Regions from separate parts of the Homo sapiens genome. Here all the other regions are linked to region 1. The links come from fine-mapping of genetic effects on gene expression. A gene starts in region 1. Each other region holds a variant in brackets. All regions are shown on one strand. Distances are from middle to middle.

Region 1 (5,708 bases):
AGTGGGTAGATCACCTGAGGTCAGGAGTTCGAGACCAACCTGGCCAACATGGTGAAACCTCGTCTCTACTAAAAACACAAAAAAATTAGCCAGTCGTGATGGCAGGCACCTGTAATCCCAGGTACTGGGGAAGCTAAGGCAGGAGAATTGCTTGAACACGGGAGGTGGAGGTTGCAGTGAGCCGAGATTGTGCCATTGCACTCCAGCCTGGGCAACAAGAGCGAAACTCTGTCTCAAAAAAAAACAAAAAAACAAACCAACAAACAAAAGTTTACTATATACATTCAAAGACAAATAATAGATTTCACAGTTTTTAAAATGTTCCCTTATTAAAAATCCCAAACATGGCCAGGTGTGGTGGCTCACGTCTGTAGTCTCAGCACTTTGGGAGACCGAGGCGGGCAGATCACGAAGTCAGGAGTTCAAGACCAGCCTGGCCAATACAGTGAAACCCCATCTCTACTAAAAATACAAAAAAAAAAACGCCAGGTACAGTGGCTCATGCCTATAATCCCAGCACTTTGGGAAGCTGAGGCGGGAGGATCACCTAAGGTTGGGAGTTTGAGGCCAGCCTGACCAACATTGAGAAGCCGTGCCTCTACTAAAAATACAACATTAGCCGGGCATGGTAGCACACGCCTGCAGTCCCAGCTACTCGGGCGGCTGAGGCAGGAGAATTGCTTGAACCTGGGAGGTAGAGGTTGCGATGAGCCAACATCATGCCATTGCACTCCAGCCTGGGCAAAAGAGCGAAACTCCCTCTCAAAAAAAAAAAAAAAAATTAGCCGAGCGTGGTGGCGGATGCCTATAGTCCCAGCTACTCAGGAGGCTGAGGCAGGAGACTAGCTTGAACCTGGGAGGCAGAGGTTGCAGTGAGCTGAGATCGTGCCACTGCACTCCAGCCTGGGCGACAGAGAGAGACTCCGTCTAAAAAAATAATAATAATAAAATCCCATACATGACAATTCAGTGACAATTGAGAAGTTCTGAATAATGGGGTGAGGAACTGATTGTCTTGTTCTCGGTAATGAACATCAGGCTTTTAACAGAGTGCATAGCAGCTGTCTTTTAGGAAACAACACGCCACAAGTGGACCTCATGACCCCAGGCATTCTGTCACTGTATAAGTGATATAAGTGCACCTCTAGCTGGACAGCTCCTCAGGTCCTCCCAGTCTAAAGTACAGGATGTGAAAGTAAGACGGTTCAACTCGCACTTTATCTCTGGGGGATGGATCCAACGAGTCCGGGAAGGAGGGTAGAATCTTTATGTTGCATCTCATAATCCCAAGGTTGTTTTTTGACATTCTAATTATTGTACATAGTTAGCTTTTCAAAAACATGGCCCACCAGCTATCATGCCTTCTTTCTTCTCTCTCTCCTCACACCTTCTAGGTCCACAAAGTCCCACTAACATCAAGCATGATCTCACCCTTAAACAGAGCTACAGAGCCTCCAAACATCTGCATACTCACCAACTAGTAGTACAAGGTAAGTCAGAATTCTTTCAGGCTGAACCAGGATAGCCAAATGAAAAATTAGAGACTTCAAAGTATCTTGTCTCTGCAAGCGACTGCTAAATCCTCAGCCCCAGCCCTAAATGTTCTCCAAAATATGTTTTTGTTTTTGTTTTTTGAGACAGGGTCTCAAACTCCTGGGCTCAAGCGATCCTCCTGCCTCAGCCTCCCTAGAAGCTAGGATTACAGGCGAGCAGCACTGTGCCTGGCCAAAATATATGTTCTAAAAATCGGTAGGAACAGTTCTCTTTGGATAGTCCACTGTCAACTGCAATAACACGAAAGTTGTTTAAAAAAAACCCATGATCTCATTATCTTTCACCAAAAACATTCCTCCTAGTGTAACTGCTCTGTTGACATCCTGTCACCAAATCTTGTGCTTTCTTCCTTCTGGGTGTCTCCCTAATGTCCGTTGCGTCCAGTCATCAAAAAGTTACAGGCTGCATTAGGGGAAGCCGTGAGCCTGGTGTAAGGCAACAGGGATTGGTGGGAACCGATGATCCTCAGCTCCAGCCAACCATTGAGCAGGTGACAAAGTGATGGTGGACCCTCCAATTATCTAAGACAGGCAAGAAATTTAGATTGTTAGGAGAAACTTTCTGATTTTTAAGGCAATATGTGGGCCAAAGAAAACATCTACAGGTCACTCATGGGCAATCCCGAGTGAACCAGGCTCCCTCAGTCTGGTCCAGGCTCCCTCAGTCCCTTCTACACATCACTGTCTGATCAGTTTCCCAAACACAGGGCTCCTGATCACTGCTATCTCGGAAAGCACAACTACTGCTACAAAGTCCTATACTGCCATTCAACCTCCACAGTAATAAAACCAATCCCTACCTTCCTTAACTCCCCTACACAGATCTTTCACTTCACCCAAAGGAGTCCACTCCCCCACCCGTCACCCCCGCCACTGTCCCCGCCAAGATGGCCTCCTTCCTACTCTCCTCCCCTACCCACCAGAGCCCACACGGTGCAGGAAACAACCCATCAACCGGGAGGACGCCCTCCAACACCTGCTGATGACGGACTGGCTCACTGGGTAACACCCCTTTGCTCAAAGCCGATGATTTCATGCCCAAGAAGGGATTTACATCTCCCAGGAGGCAAATGCTATGGCCTTGTCCTGATTCCCCCACCCCCCAAAATAATAACATTGTAAAAGGGAACGGAGAGCCTAAGTTGCGCTCAGAGGAGCCGCCTCCCTAAGAAGGCTCTGCATATCTTCACCTCCAGGAAGGCCTCACGGAGTTGGGGGAGAGGGGAGTCCCCGCAGCCAGCCCAGCGAGGCAGGAGGCCGTGCGCCACTCCCGAGAAGCTCCTTCCTGCGCCCCGGGGGAGCCACTTCAGTCAGACCCTGAGCCGGGACCCCGACCCGCCGACCCCTGACGCGCGCGCCGCGAAGGCCGGGCACCCGAGGGCCCTTCGCGCTACCCGGGCCCGGGGCCGCCGTCGGCTGCGACAAAGGGTCAGAGAACAAGACGACCCCTCTGCGCGCGTCCCCCGCAGGCCTCCCGGATGCGCCGCTGTCCCGGCCGCGCCCACCCCGACGCTGCCGCTACCTTGTCCTCGGGTGGCGCAACCGGCTCATGGGCCACCCTCTGCCTCAGCTCTGTCATCCTGGGAAAATCGGCCCGACGTCGCCGCGAGCTAGCAGCGAAGCCGCCGGAGCAGGCAGCTCGGCGCGGGCACGCGCGGACTCCCACGGCCGGCCCCGCCCCGCCCGGGAGGCGCGCGGCTCTGAGCGGCTCACAGTTCCCTTAGCAGCCCAGCAGCCAGCCCTGGAGCTCGGCCCCACCCAGTGCCGTCACCGCCCTTTCACCCGGGCCGAGCGGGGTCAGCCTTCCCTAGCCCCGACCCGAGAGCTCCCTCTCCCGGGAGCAGGGCTCGGAGCGAGTGCGCACGCGCAGCGCCACCATCACGGTCCGGAATATCCACCAATGGCGCAAATACGCCAGGGAGGCAGGGCGACGGGGGCGGGGCGGGGCGGAGCAGAGTCGAGAGGCGCGCATTGGACGGCAGCGTCAGGGGCGGGAAAAGGCGTGCGTTTCAGTGTGCGATTAGCCAATGGGAGCTCCCGCTTAACCGCGGATGGCCGGAGCTGGCGCCCTGGTTCTGGAGGTAACCGGTTACTGAGGGCGAGAAGCGCCACCCGGAGGCTCTAGCCTGACAAATGCTTGCTGACCTGGGCCAGAGCTCTTCCCTTACGCAAGTAAGTAGACGTTATTTAGGTCGAATGGAAAGGCCAGGTGAGCCGACCTGGTTAAGAGCATTTTATCACTTATCACATGATGAGAAATGAAACCCACGCTTCAGTCTGCTTTGCTTTGCCAAGCGGTCGCTAGTACTTGTTAAGCACTAATTGTATACTAGGCACTGAGCTGAGTAATCGCTTTAGTTGGCTTATCTCGTTTAATCCACACATGGCTTGGAAGTGGGTATGATTTGAATTTTACAGTTAAGATCTTCCTCAGTGGTTTGTTTGTTTGTTCGTTTGTTTGTTTGTTTTGTGACGGAGTCTCGCTCTGTCGCCCAGGCTGGAGTGCAGTGGCATGATCTCGACTCACTGCAACCTCTGCCTCCCGGGCGCAAACAATTCCAAGGTGCGCGCCACCACGCCCGGCTAACTTTTGTATTTTTAGTAGAGACGGGGTTTCACCATATTGGTCAGGCTGGTCTCGAACTCCTGACCTCAGGTGATCCGTCCGCCTCCGCCTTCCAAAGTGCTGGGATTACAGGCGTGAGCCACCGAGCCTGGCCCTTCCTCAGTTTTTCAAATTTGTCTTCTGGACTATGGAAAGACCTTTTTTGGGACAGAAGTGCTGTCTACTTTGTTTACTGTGCATCCTCTATGTCTTTGACACATCCATTGTAAGTACTTGTTGGATGGATTTAAAACTTTTAAAAGGACCTTAGCCAAGGTCTCCCAGCTAGAAAGTGCCTAGTAAGAATTAGAACACAAACAGGTTTGTTACCAGCCCACACTCTAACCACCATACTATACTGCCTGCCTGCATTTATTAATACTTGTGTTGCTCCAGCATTGCCTTTGGTGTTTCCTGTTCTTTCTATTCACTGCCCTGTAAGTGATGTAAAACACATATAACACTGCGTCCCCAACTTAAGCATACTGTAATCTCACAATGAGACACTTGCACACAAAAGAATTGCAATTTCGTTTTTTAAAAAAATATAATTTTACATTTTTCTTCTTTTCAATTTTTAAATTTTAATTAATTTATTTCTCCTTTTTTTAGAGACAGGGTCTCACTATGTTGCCCAGACTGGTCTTGAACTCCTGGGTTCAAGAGATCCTCCCGCCTAGGTCTCCCAAAGTGCTGGGATTACAGGCATGAGCTACCATGCCTGGCTAAAATTTCCTATTGGTAATTTTGACCTGAGCTGTGAGTTTTGGGGCAGGTAGTGAGAATTCTGAAAACAGCATTATATATTCCTGATTTCTATATGAGTATATGCCCGAGTAGCTTGGACTACAGGTGTGCAGCACCACACCCAGCTAACTTTTAAATTTTTGTGTAGCGATGAAGTCTCACTTTATTGCTTAGGCTGGTCTTAAACTCCTGGGCTCGAGCAATCCTCCCACATAGGCCTCCTAAAGTTCTGGGATTACAGGCATGAGCCACAGCACTCGAGCAAGATGATCTTCTAAGACAGGTGAAGATGTTAGTGTCTAGAACTTCACCTTCAGGGGCACGTAGGTATGAAAGGTCATATCTAAGTGAGTGTCATGTCAGTCCTTCTAGAAACTCAGCTGCTCCTTTTCAAATCCAGCCTAATAAAAGGAGGCTTGGAGAATCAATGCACATAAGTCAGAATTATAGAATGCACAGCATGATTACTAGGATGGATAACATGTGGTCTGAACAAACTTCTCATCCATTACACTCAGCCCTCTCAGGTTAATGGAACTCAGATCAAGTATATTCCTGAAGTCAGTACTGTGTGACGAACAGGGGTCTGGTGGAAGTGATGCTAATAGGGCTTTAGGCCAGCTTTAGAGCCCTTCTCTCTCTCTCTTTTCGTTTTTTGTTTTCTTTTTGTTTGTTTTTTGTTTTTTTTTTTTAGACAGTTTCCCTCTTGTTGCTCAGGCTGGAGTGCAATGGTGTGATCTCGGCTCACTGCAACCTCCGCCTCCCAGGTTCAAGCAATTCTCCTGTCTCAGCCTCCCGAGTAG
Region 2 (5,708 bases), 74 kb before region 1:
GTTTTTTAGGTTCCTCAGGCAATTCTAATGTGCAGCCAAGTTTGAGAATCAATGGCTTCAAAGGCTCTACCTCTAAGGCTCCTGGAATCTACGAGAAATAGAGACCATGTGGGCAAGATCAGAGAGCCCATCTTAGCTGCAGGAATAACTTCAGTTGCCTCAGTCAAATCCACCATCGGTCAAATCTTTGCTGCAGGAATAACTTCAGTTCCCTTGGTCAAATCCAGATCAGAATTTACCCTGAACCTAGACTCAGTCTGATGGATGTGCTTTTTACCCTAAAAATGTGTTTAAGTTTGTTAAAATTGAGAAGTGATATTAACGGAAATGGCACAATGGTGTTTATTTCATTTGAGAACTCCCTAAGTTTTGGTTGATTTGGGAACTGGCAGTGTCCTTTGGTAAATATTGGATGGCGTGTAAGTGAGTACGCCATGGCCAGGCCATGAGTCCATCTCTGGGACTTCCCACCCCGACTGCCTGGCCTCTAAATAATCAAATAGAGAAGTTACTCTTGCTTTGTTTCCCTTCCTCTCCTTTCCCAGGAGACCAAAAGGTAAAGCTGCCCTTTCTTCTCAAGGGAAGAGCACTCAGGCCTCTAGAATTCTGGCCCCAGGAGAAAATTAATAGCTGCTTCTGCTGTGAGGTGGGAGTGGGGCCACCTGAAGGCAACTCTACCCAGGCCTTTCCCCAGGCCTGAAGGCTGGATTGTCTTATTGAAGGGAAGGGAGTAGCCCTAGCTAAAAAGTAGATCCTCAAGTCCAAAACGACGGAGGGGCTCATCTCCAGACCTTAGCTCCTCTCCGTCGATGATTTTATCCAGTCTTCCGGCTCCTGGTGTAGAATAACGCGCACACCCTCATCACTCTCAAATTTCTATTTCCATCTCGGACTACTCCCCAGGACTGGACATCCCTGTGTGGGTATCTCACAGGCATCTCAAACCTAGCGTGTCCAAACCCAAACTCCTGACTGACCCTCTCTAATCCACCTCCCACCTGCACCTGTCCTCCCACAGCCGTCCACAGTTTAGAAATGGCAGCACCATCCTTCCGGCCGCCCAAGCCAACTTCACAGCCCTCCTTGACTCCTCTTCGTCCCTCTCCTCCATACCTAATCCTTCTGCAGATTCTGACAATCTGACCATTTCTCACCACCGCCCCACTCCCATATCCCCTGCTGAGCCACGTGTGTGTGTGTGTGTGTGTGTGTGTGTGTCTGTGTGTGTGTGTCTGTGTGTGTGTGTGTCTGTCTCTCTCTCTTCTGGATCGCTGCTGTTGCCTCCTCTCTGATCACCCTGCTTTCACCCTTGGCCCACTGTAGTCTGTTCTCAACATAGCAGCCCTTTGCAAACAAACACCACTTTGACACTCCTAGGCTCTGAACTCCCCAACAGCTTCTTATCTTGCTCAGAGTAAAAGCCAATGGCCTTGGCCCTGTGTAATTCCCCTGGGTTTCCTGCCAGTGCTCCTCCCCACTTCCCTGCTCCATCCACCCTGCAGTTCCTCCACAGCACAGGTGTCTTTGCACTTCCCCAGATACCTGAACAGCTCCCTCCCCCACAGCCTCGAGGTGTGTCCATTTGCCCAAACACCACCTCTGCAGTGAGGCCTTCCCTGTTCACCCTATTTAAAATGGCAACCTCTCCCTACCAGCAATCCCTCTTCCCTCCTTCTGGCTACATTTTTCTCCATCTAACATCCTTTCTCAGGTTTGTCGTTCTTCCCTAAAATGAGCTCCATGAAACAAGGACTTTTTGTTGCAGTGTCTGGACAGGGCCTACCCCAGAGCAGGCACTCCACAAGTGCTGGCTGAACACACAGCCAGCGGCGGCTCACGCCTGTAATCCCAGCACTTTGGGAGGCCAAGGTGGGTGGATCACCTGAGGTCAGGAGTTTGAGACCAGCCTGGCCAACATGGCGAAATCCTGTCTCTACTAAAAATATAAAAAAATTAGCGGGGTGTGGTGGCACATGCCTGTAATCCCAGCTACTTGGGAGGCTGAGGCAGGAGAATCACTTGAACCTGGCAGGCGAAGGTTGCAGTGAGCTGAGATCCAACCACTGAACTCCACCCTGGGCAACAGAGGGAGACTCTGTCTCAAAAAAAAAAAAAAAAAATTGTATTGCCTAGGTTTTCTTCTAGGGTTTCTATGGTTTTAGGTCTAACATTTAAGTCTTTAATCCATCTTGAATTAATTTTTGTATAAGGTGTAAGGAGGGGATCCAGTTTCAGCTTTCTACATATGGCTAGCCAGTTTTCCCAGCACCATTTATTAAATAGGGAATCCTTTCCCCATTGCTTGTTTTTCTCAGGTTTGTCAAAGATCAGATAGTTGCAGATATGCAGCATTATTTCTGAGGGCTCTGTTCTGTTCCATTGGTCTATATCTCTGTTTTGGTACCAGTACCATGCTGTTTTGGTTACTGTAGCCTTGTAGTATAGTTTGAAGTCAGGTAGCATGATGCCTCCAGCTTTGTTCTTTTGGCTTAGGATTCACTTGGCAATGCGGGCTCTTTTTTGGTTCCATATGAACTTCAAAGTAGTTTTTTCCAATTCTGTGAAGAAAGTCATTGGTAGCTTGATGGGGATGGCATTGAATCTGTAAATTACCTTGGGCAGTATGGCCATTTTCACCATATTGATTCTTCCTACCCATGAGCATGGAATGTTCTTCCATTTGTTTGTATCCTCTTTAATTTCATTGAGCAGTGGTTTGTAGTTCTCTTTGAAGAGGTCCTTCACGTCCCTTGTAAGTTGGATTCCTAGGTATTTTATTCTCTTTGAAGCAA[T/C]TGTGAATGGGAGTTCACTCATGATTTGGCTGTTTGTCTGTTATTGGTGTATAAGAATGCTTGTGATTTTTGCACATTGATTTTGTATCCTGAGACTTTGCTGAAGTTGCCTATCAGCTTAAGGAGATTTTGGGCTGAGACGATGGGGTTTTCTAGATACACAATCATGTCATCTGCAAAGAGGGACAATTTGACTTCCTCTTTTCTCAACTGAATACCCTTTATTTCTTTCTCCTGCCTGATTGCCCTGGCCAGAACTTCCAACACTATGTTGAATAGGAGTGGTGAGAGAGGGCATCCCTGTCTTGTGCCAGTTTTCAAAGGGAATGCTTCCAGTTTTTGCCCATTCAGTATGATACTGGCTGTGGGTTTGTCATAGATAGCTCTTATTATTTTGAGGTACATCCCATCAATACCTAATTTATTGAGCGTTTTTAGCATGAAGCATTGTTGAATTTTGTCAAAGGCCTTTTCTGCATCTATTGAGATAATCATATGGTTTTTTTCGTTGGTTCTGTTTATATACTGGATTACATTTATTGATTTGCGTATGTTGAATGAGCCTTGCATCCCAGGGATGAAGCCCACTTGATCATGGTGGATAAGCTTTTTGATGTGCTGCTGGATTCGGTTTGCCAGTATTTTATTGAGGATTTTTGCATCGATGTTCATCAGGGATATTGGTCTAAAATTCTCTTTTTTGTTGTGTCTAACCTAGGCAATACCATTCAGGACATAGGCACGGGCAAGGACTTCATGTCTAAAACACCAAAAGCAATGGCAACAAAAGCCAAAATTGACAAATAGGATCTAATTAAACTAAAGAGCTTCTGCACAGCAAAATAAACTACCATCAGAGTGAACAGGCAACCTACAGAATAGGAGAAAAATTCTGCAATCTACTCATCTGACAAAGGGCTAATATCCAGAATCTACAATGAACTCAAACAAATTTACAAGAAAAAAACAAACAACCCCATCAAAAAGTGGGCGAAGGATATGAACAGACACTTCTCAAAAGAAGACATTTATGCAGCCAAAAGACACATGAAAAAATGCTCATTATCACTGGCCATCAGAGAAATGCAAATCAAAACCACAATGAGATACCATCTCACACCAGTTAGAATGGCGATCATTAAAATGTCAGGAAACAACAGATCCTGGAGAGGATGTGGAGAAATAGGAACACTTTTACACTGTTGGTGGGACTGTAACTAGTTCAACCATTGTGGAAGTCAGTGTGGCGATTCCTCAGGGATCTAGAACTAGAAATACCATTTGACCCAGCCATCCCATTACTGGGTATATACCCAAAGGATTATAAAACATGCTGCTATAAAGACACATGCACACGTATGTTTATTGCGGCACTATTCACAATAGCAAAGACTTGGAACCAACCCAAATGTCCAACAATGATAGACTGGATTAAGAAAATGTGGCACATATACACCGTGGAATACCACGCAGCCATAAAAAAGGATGAGTTCATGTCCTTTGTAGGGACATGGATGAAGCTGGAAACCATCATTCTCAGCAAACTATCGCAAGAACAAAAAACCAAACACCGCATGTTCTCACGCAGGTAAGAATTGAACAATGAGAACACTTGGACACAGGAAGGGGAACATCACACACCGGGGCCTGTTGTGGGGTGGGGGAGGGGGGAGGGAAAGCATTAGGAGATACACCTAATGTTAAATGATGAGTTAATGGGTGCAGCACACCAACATGGCACATGTATACATATGTAACAAACCTGCACGTTGTGCACATGTACCTTAAAGTATAATAATAAAAAAAAAAAGAAAGAAAGGAGAGAGGAGAAAAAAGAAATCATCAAGACCAGTGTGCGGGGGGCTCTGGATATGGAAGGATGCCAGATGCAGGCAACTGCACAGGTGCTCTGACGCCACTGGCCTAGGGCCTCCTATGGACTTCACAGGGCTGGACAACAGAGCCTTCAGCAGATGGAGTTGAGCCCAGGGACCCTCACCACTTCAGCAACATGTGAGCCCTCGGCTCCTGGTGCAACAAAAGGGAGCAAAGCAGCCAGGGAAAACGACTCATGTTGGTTTTCCCATCAGTCTTGGAAACTGGTGGCTTGCAGTCAGATTTTGTGGGGTTTAGGAAAGTAAGTGAATGCAGTGGGTTTTTCTGCATCTTGAATGTTGGCGAGCAATTCACTGAGGAAATTCCAATGGTAGTAGCTTTCCTATGGGTGAAAATGGCAGAGGCCCCTGTCCAAAAGGTAATCAATCTAGAGGTCCCACTGGCCTCAGACATTTGCCCTGGTAAGGCTGGCCTGCTGGCTCCCAGGAGTTCAGACCCTTCTGTCCTGGGGCAGGAGACACACAGTGAGGAGACAACATAAGGCCTCCCCAAGGAAGTGCTGTTGACGGTGAGAACTGCTAGGAAAAGAGGAGTTAGGCAGGCTGACGAAGAGCTGGGAAAGGAAAAAAACTGGGCAGAGGGCCCACGCCAGGGCCCGGGACAGGCGCACACCTGGAACAAGGAAGGACAAGCGGCAGCTGTGGCTGTGAAGGCAGGGCCCGAATGCGTGGGTCAGGCACTGGCCAGCTCACAGATGGCCCCAGAAGCCTCGTTACCAAGTCTGAACTTTAACCTCAAGACCCAAAGGGTTCCAAGCAGAGAGCTCATCCCAGCTATCATGCAAGAAATGGATTAGAGAGGTGGCCAGGCTGTAGGGAGAGGGCTAGAGGCTGCCTTAGAAATCCTGGCAGGAGATGGGGCCTGGCCCAGAAGGCTGGCAGTAAGGATGATTCCGAGGATGTTTGGAAGGCAGAACGGGCAGGCTTGGGTGACTGATGAGATCACTCCAGTTACTGGCTTGTGTGACAGAACACATGGGTAGTTAGAGAACACAGGACTCAGGACATGGGTCATAGGTTT
Region 3 (5,708 bases), 53 kb before region 1:
GTGAGGGCCACTGGCTTAGAGGGGGGTATCTGTACACGAGAAACACTCACAAAATAAAAGGGAAAATCCAACTCCCAATTCTCACCAGATCATTCCTTCAAATAGGTTGTGGATAACAAGATGTGACTGTGTTACAACAATCAGCAATGTCACATGGGTCCAGCCAAACTGCAAAAAAAAGAAAAATAAACACTACTTACCAGTTTACCTTGAAAGTAACTTCAAAGAACAATCAATACCAAATAGAAAACTGCTGAGAAGCAGGTAGGAAAAATATCTGCTTTTGTATCTGACTTATTGAAAGTGAACAGGTAAGATCAGGCTTCTGAGAGTAATACTTTGTCCCCCACAGCCCACTAGTGAGTGAGCTCTCCCATGCTCTGAAAGCCTGGGTATTTTTCATTTTCTTAGTAGTTATTGAGCACCTGGAGCACTCAGAGAGGAGCTGTTCTCTAGTGAGTCAGGGAATAAGTGGTAGCAAGTGATGTACCAGACAGGACATCTGTGGGCAGTGTCTGAAGCTTCAGCTTGTGCCTTCTCTGGAGCCCACCTCAGGGTCCTAGTGGAGAGGCTGCTTAAGGTGTAAGTAACAGTGACTGGGTCTAAGTCAACGTAGAGCCATTAAACCTAAATGGGCATTCTTCCTTCATGCTCTAGATGCATACATATCAGACCATGTTCCTGAGTTTTGATTTGTCACAGAAAGCATGAAAGGCTTGTTGAGTTCCTGAAAAACTTCATTTAAATCAAGAATTCTGACACACACGCATGCATTTCCTTTACCATGTAGAACTGCAGTCGATAATGCTTCTTGACCAGACTCAGTACAAACATGCAGAATCCTAGTTTGAGGTGGGAGGAGAAAAGAAAAATGAATTATGTTCTGCATTTATCTTTGCCCTCCTTTAGCTATGTTAAGTGGTTCTTTGGCTAATTTATTCCCAGCAGCTAACCAGTGCACAATGTCAAAGCCCAGGGGAGAAAAACATTACCCAGATAAACAGTCACAAGGAAAAAATAACTCCTCCCAAACAGTAAAAGGAAGGCAATATTTTATAATCATGCAGACCACACTAAACTTAGAACATGGTTCATCAGATAGGAATGTTTTATTCCTAGAACATGGGCCAGCAAACAGTGGTCAGGCCAGCTGCTTGTTTTTATAAATAAAGTTTTATTCAAACACAGTTATGTCCATTTGTTTACATATTGTCTATGGCTGCTTTCAAGCTACAACTCAGCAGAACTGAGTACAGTCATGCTCTGAACAACGAGGTTCTCGTCAACAACACACCACATACACAACAACAGTTCCCTAAGGTTATAATACCCATAGATTATAATACCATAAGATTTACTAATTACCATATAGTACCTTTTCTATGTTTAGATACACAAATACTTACCATTGTGTTATAATTGCCTACAGTATTTATTTAGTAAGGTAACATGCTGTACAGGTTTGTACTCTAAGAGAAATAGACTACACATTATAGCCTAGGTGTGTAGGAGGCTATACCATCTAGGTCTGCATAAGTACACTCTACAATGTTTGCACAATGACAAAATGACAACAATGCATTTCCGAGAACATAGCCCATGGTTAAACGATGCATGACTGTAACTGCAAGAGACCCTATGGTCCCCAAAGCCTAAAATATTTACTGTTTGGAACTTTAATAAAAAGTTTGCTGCCTGTTGTGCCTACAGAGTAGCAATTCTTTTATTCCTTTACTTTCTTAATAGACTTGCTTTCACTTTCCTCCACAGACTCGCCCCAAACTCCTTCTTGTATGAGATCCAATAACACTCTCTTGGGGTCCGGGTCTGGACCCCTTTCTGGTAACATCTTTCTGGTGAACCCCAAAGGGACAATACTGAGGAGACCCCCAACCCAAAGGAAATAGACTGCAGCACTGATTGGCTGACTTTGGTTTTTTTCTGCAATTTAGACTGCTTGTTCCTGTGAACCAACCAGTGATCTCTGGCTGCAGCTCAGAAGAAACAAGAGGGATTGGTGATGTAAAAATCTGAATCAGTATTCTAATTCTGGGAACATATTGCAATCAGCTACCGACCCCGTATCAGCTTGGTTCCAACAATTACCCAGTTCATGGAAAGCCTTCTTTAGTTTACTTGGGATAGTTTTGCTTATTTTGCTTTACTGATATGGAATAGTTGTACTATTTGTGTAGGAATGCAGGATAAGCTTACTCAATGTTCTCTTAAACACTTACAAAATCTTCCAGATATCACTTTGTGTCCGAGCTGTGAATAGCCCTAACCATACTGACACTTTCTGACTGAGCTCCTCTCTACCCTGAATACAAGAGACCTCGATAGGTAGGCAGGAATATCATTGCCCCTAATCAGCCTGAAGAAGTTACAGAGGATGGATCTTCGTCCCTCTGCAACCCTTAGGATTAAGGGTTCTCTTATAAAAGTGATGGGGGAAATGTCAGAGGCATTTGAGCTAGAGCAACTCCATCCTGAATAGGAGCTGGGTAAAATGAGGCTGAGATCTACAGGGTCTGCATTCCCAGACGGTTAGGTATTCTAAGTCACAGGATGAGATAGGAGGTCACACAAGATACAGGTCATAAAGACCTTGCTGAGAAAACAACTGCAGTAAAGAAGCTGGCCAAACCCCTCCAAAATCAAGATAGCAATGAGAATGACCTCTGCTTGTCCTAATTGCTACACTCCAATCAGTGACATGGCAGTTTACAAATGCCATGGCAACATCAGGAAATTACCCTATATGATCTAAAAAAAGGAAACATGAATAATCCACCCTTTGTTTAGCATATAATCAAGAAATAACCATAAAAATGGGCAACCAGCAGCCCTCGGGGCTGCTCTAAGGGCCATTCTTTTATTCCTTTACTTTCTTAATAAACTTGCTTCCCCTTAAAAAAAAAAAAAAAGTTTGCCAATACCTGTCCTAGTATTCATAGGGCTGGGAGAAGAGGGATCCACATGGTATAGGGTCAAGACCACCTTTTTATCTCTCTCACAGTGACCTAGATGGTAGCACAACATGTC[C/T]GCAGACCCCTTCTCCAGGAAGGAAAGGAACCTTTATCCATAAACATGCGGAGATCCTCAAAAGCAGTTCTGCCCAGAAATAAGCATGTCGCTTTTCCAGACCCCTTACCTCCCACTGTGGAAGGCTGCTTTCGGGGTCTGCAGCATACTCTCTGAATATCCTCAATGGCAGCAGACCCCTTTGCAGATTTTATATTTTAATAGTCAGGTGTCATTCACAGAAGTATTGCTATCAAGCTGATCAAAAATAGGTCAGATTGACATTGAGGTCAGAACAAATTTTTCGTGCACCTCAAACTAGCTTTGAAGGTAGCTATGAAAAACCATCAGCATTATTAGAATTAGTACGTGGCCTTACCTGAATGTATACTAATATAACGCTTTAATGTTTGTGAAGTTTTAATGTATTTGATTTAATCCTCACAGTAACCCTGCAGTTTTAGCTCTAGATTACAAAAGAGCTGAGACTCAGAAATATTATGTTCCTAGCTCCCCCTGAGGTTGCAGAGTCTACGCCCAAATCCAGTAAAATTTCCACCATGCTACAATGTCACCCAAGGCGGTCTCCTAAAATGACTCCCCTAAAGATGGTAAGTTCCTAGATGATTTTTGTTTCGGTCCCACTGCAGAATCTTTGCCAACAGGAGAGTCAGGACAGGACCATGCTGTGCTGTTCCTCAATGGTGGCTGAAACACAGGGGCAGGTGGCACAGGCCACAGTCCTGCCCCTACACTCTGCTTCTCTTAAAAGAGCTCCTACAAGGCCGGGCGTGGTGGCTCACACCTGTAATCCCAGCACTTTGGGAGGCCAAGGCAGGCGGATAAGTTAAACTCGGGAGTTCGGAACCAGCCTGGCCAACATGGCGAAACTCGGTCTCTACTAAAAATACAAAAATTAGCTGGGCATGGTAGCAGGCACCTGTAGTCCCAGCTACTTCGGGACCTGAGGTGGGAGGATCGCTTCAACTTGGGAGGTGGAGGTTGCAGTCAGCCGAGATGGTGCCACTGCACTCTGGCCTGGGTGACAGAGTGAGACCCTGGCTCAAAAAAAAAAAAAAAAAAGGTAACAGCTGCTACAGCTTAACATAGAGCATCAGCTCTGCTCCCCTGCATGGTCACAGTTAATGTCACAAAACTGTATACTAACCAAGAAATTCCCCAATTCCTACCTGACAGACATACAAAAACAATACAGACACAAGAAATGGTGAACTGCTTAATGCATACCTATTAGATAGAGAGTAAAGGAAATGAACCGGTGGTATTTACTGAGAATCCGCAAAGGCTCTTCTCTCTGGACCAGGGTGAAGAAGTAATCCGTCACTGTCTCACCATAGAAGAAATAGTTTACACACAGGAGAAAGTACCTGTAAATGAAGACAGGTCATTGCCGTGGGGAGCACCCTTGCCTTCACAGCAAGGCAGTCAGACATCCCAGAGGAAGGGACAGAGGGCAGCAGAATACCCCCCACCCTTGAGTCCCCCGGGACAGCTCACAGAGCAACAGGCAGACCATGGTTTCCTGCTCTCTGGTGACACCGTAGGTGAGAAATTTATCTAGAAACAGACAGCAGCTTTCATTCACTCTCCATTTCTCCCAAACTTGAGACTCCGTTTTTGCCCCTTTTGTAGCATTCCCATACCTAACTGAGGGATCCTTGAACCATATGACCTTCAAAAACACGCCTCATCCTGCTTCCCCAGTCTCGTTTCCACTCTTCCCAACAGGAACTCCTTCACTCCTATCAAAATGGTTTCTTCCGGCTTTGCCACACCTGTCTGCTGTTCTCCTGCCTTTTTCCTGCTCCTGACATTCTCTTTGCTTCTCCATTTCTTCACTCCTTGCTCAAATGCCATTTTATTCATAAAACTTTGCATGACCTAACATGACATCTGCCTCCCCTGCATTTATTTCTATAGCAAGTAATATGTGATTATCTGACTAAGCAATTAATGATGCATCTGCCTCTCTGAAGCCTGGCTCTGACAAACAGACCTTCCATTAGCGTTAACTCTTCACTTGTGTATTCTCTCTCCTCAACTGGCGTTCATGAGAAGAGAAGCCATCCCTTGCAGCCTCCACAGTACTGCTGAGTATGGCACCATGCAGCCATCACTGCAAACCCCCAGCAAGGATCCTGAGATAGAGAAGAAAGTGGAGAGCTTTTCTTTCCCATTCTTTTTTTTAAATTATGAAGTACAAAAACTCCCATATTGGGTTTCTTTTCTGTTACATGGAAAAAACTTTCTTTGTAAAGTGACCACAGCCAGGAGTCAGGCCTCCTGAGTATGTTAACAAAATGCAAAACACTGCTTTCCAGCTAAAGAACAGCCACAAAAGGGACCTGCATCTTAAGCCAGGTGGCAATCCCAATTCCATCTGGAGGCTGGGAGGCAGCCTGTCTGTTGGGTGACAGGAAACACCTCAGGAAGGGGGTGCCCAGCCTACATCTGAGCACATCGGCTTCCTTGACAGTGACCAGGTTGCTGGGGCAAAAACCACTGCTCTCCAGCCGGCTAAGTCATGGCTTCAACCCCTGTATCCCTGCACAGTGGGGTGAGAAGGTCCACATTTGCCCCAGGTCCTCTCAGCATGGTGCAGTGCTCTGCTCAAAAGTCACCACCTGAGAATACTACGGCCAATAAAGCAGAGTTTCAGATCA

Direction of the effects. Alleles are on the strand shown, and positions count from the first base shown. SD is a standard deviation of normalised expression in the study named. Not every link is listed here.
As copies of C replace T in region 3, the expression in monocytes of the gene that starts at base 3,217 in region 1 goes up (large effect, 1.0 SD a copy in Quach 2016).

What was found. PIP is the estimated chance that this variant, and not a neighbour inherited with it, causes the effect.
Region 2: its variant is the best candidate, but not a certain one, in a credible set for the expression of CDS2 in whole blood (INTERVAL, PIP 0.70).
Region 3: its variant is the best candidate, but not a certain one, in a credible set for the expression of CDS2 in monocytes (Quach 2016, PIP 0.83).

The regions. Positions count from the first base shown.
Region 1 is chr20:5,124,517-5,130,224 of GRCh38, reverse strand. CDS2 (CDP-diacylglycerol synthase 2) reads right to left here and starts at 3,217. Exons shown (of 13, transcript NM_003818.4): 1 at 3,076-3,217. The coding sequence starts at 3,132. It also overlaps a transcript of PCNA not described here. RefSeq lists enhancers at 2,379-2,468, 3,045-3,546 and a silencer at 2,809-3,728.
Region 2 is chr20:5,198,306-5,204,013 of GRCh38, reverse strand. No RefSeq gene overlaps it. Among named protein-coding and RNA genes, the nearest start is that of CDS2, 74 kb to the right of the region's middle. The variant T/C (reference allele first, on the strand shown) is at 2,793.
Region 3 is chr20:5,177,521-5,183,228 of GRCh38, reverse strand. It overlaps CDS2 (CDP-diacylglycerol synthase 2), which reads right to left. Exons shown (of 13, transcript NM_003818.4): 5 at 4,273-4,412; 6 at 784-842; 7 at 86-168. Among named protein-coding and RNA genes, the nearest start is that of CDS2, 53 kb to the right of the region's middle. The variant C/T (reference allele first, on the strand shown) is at 3,046.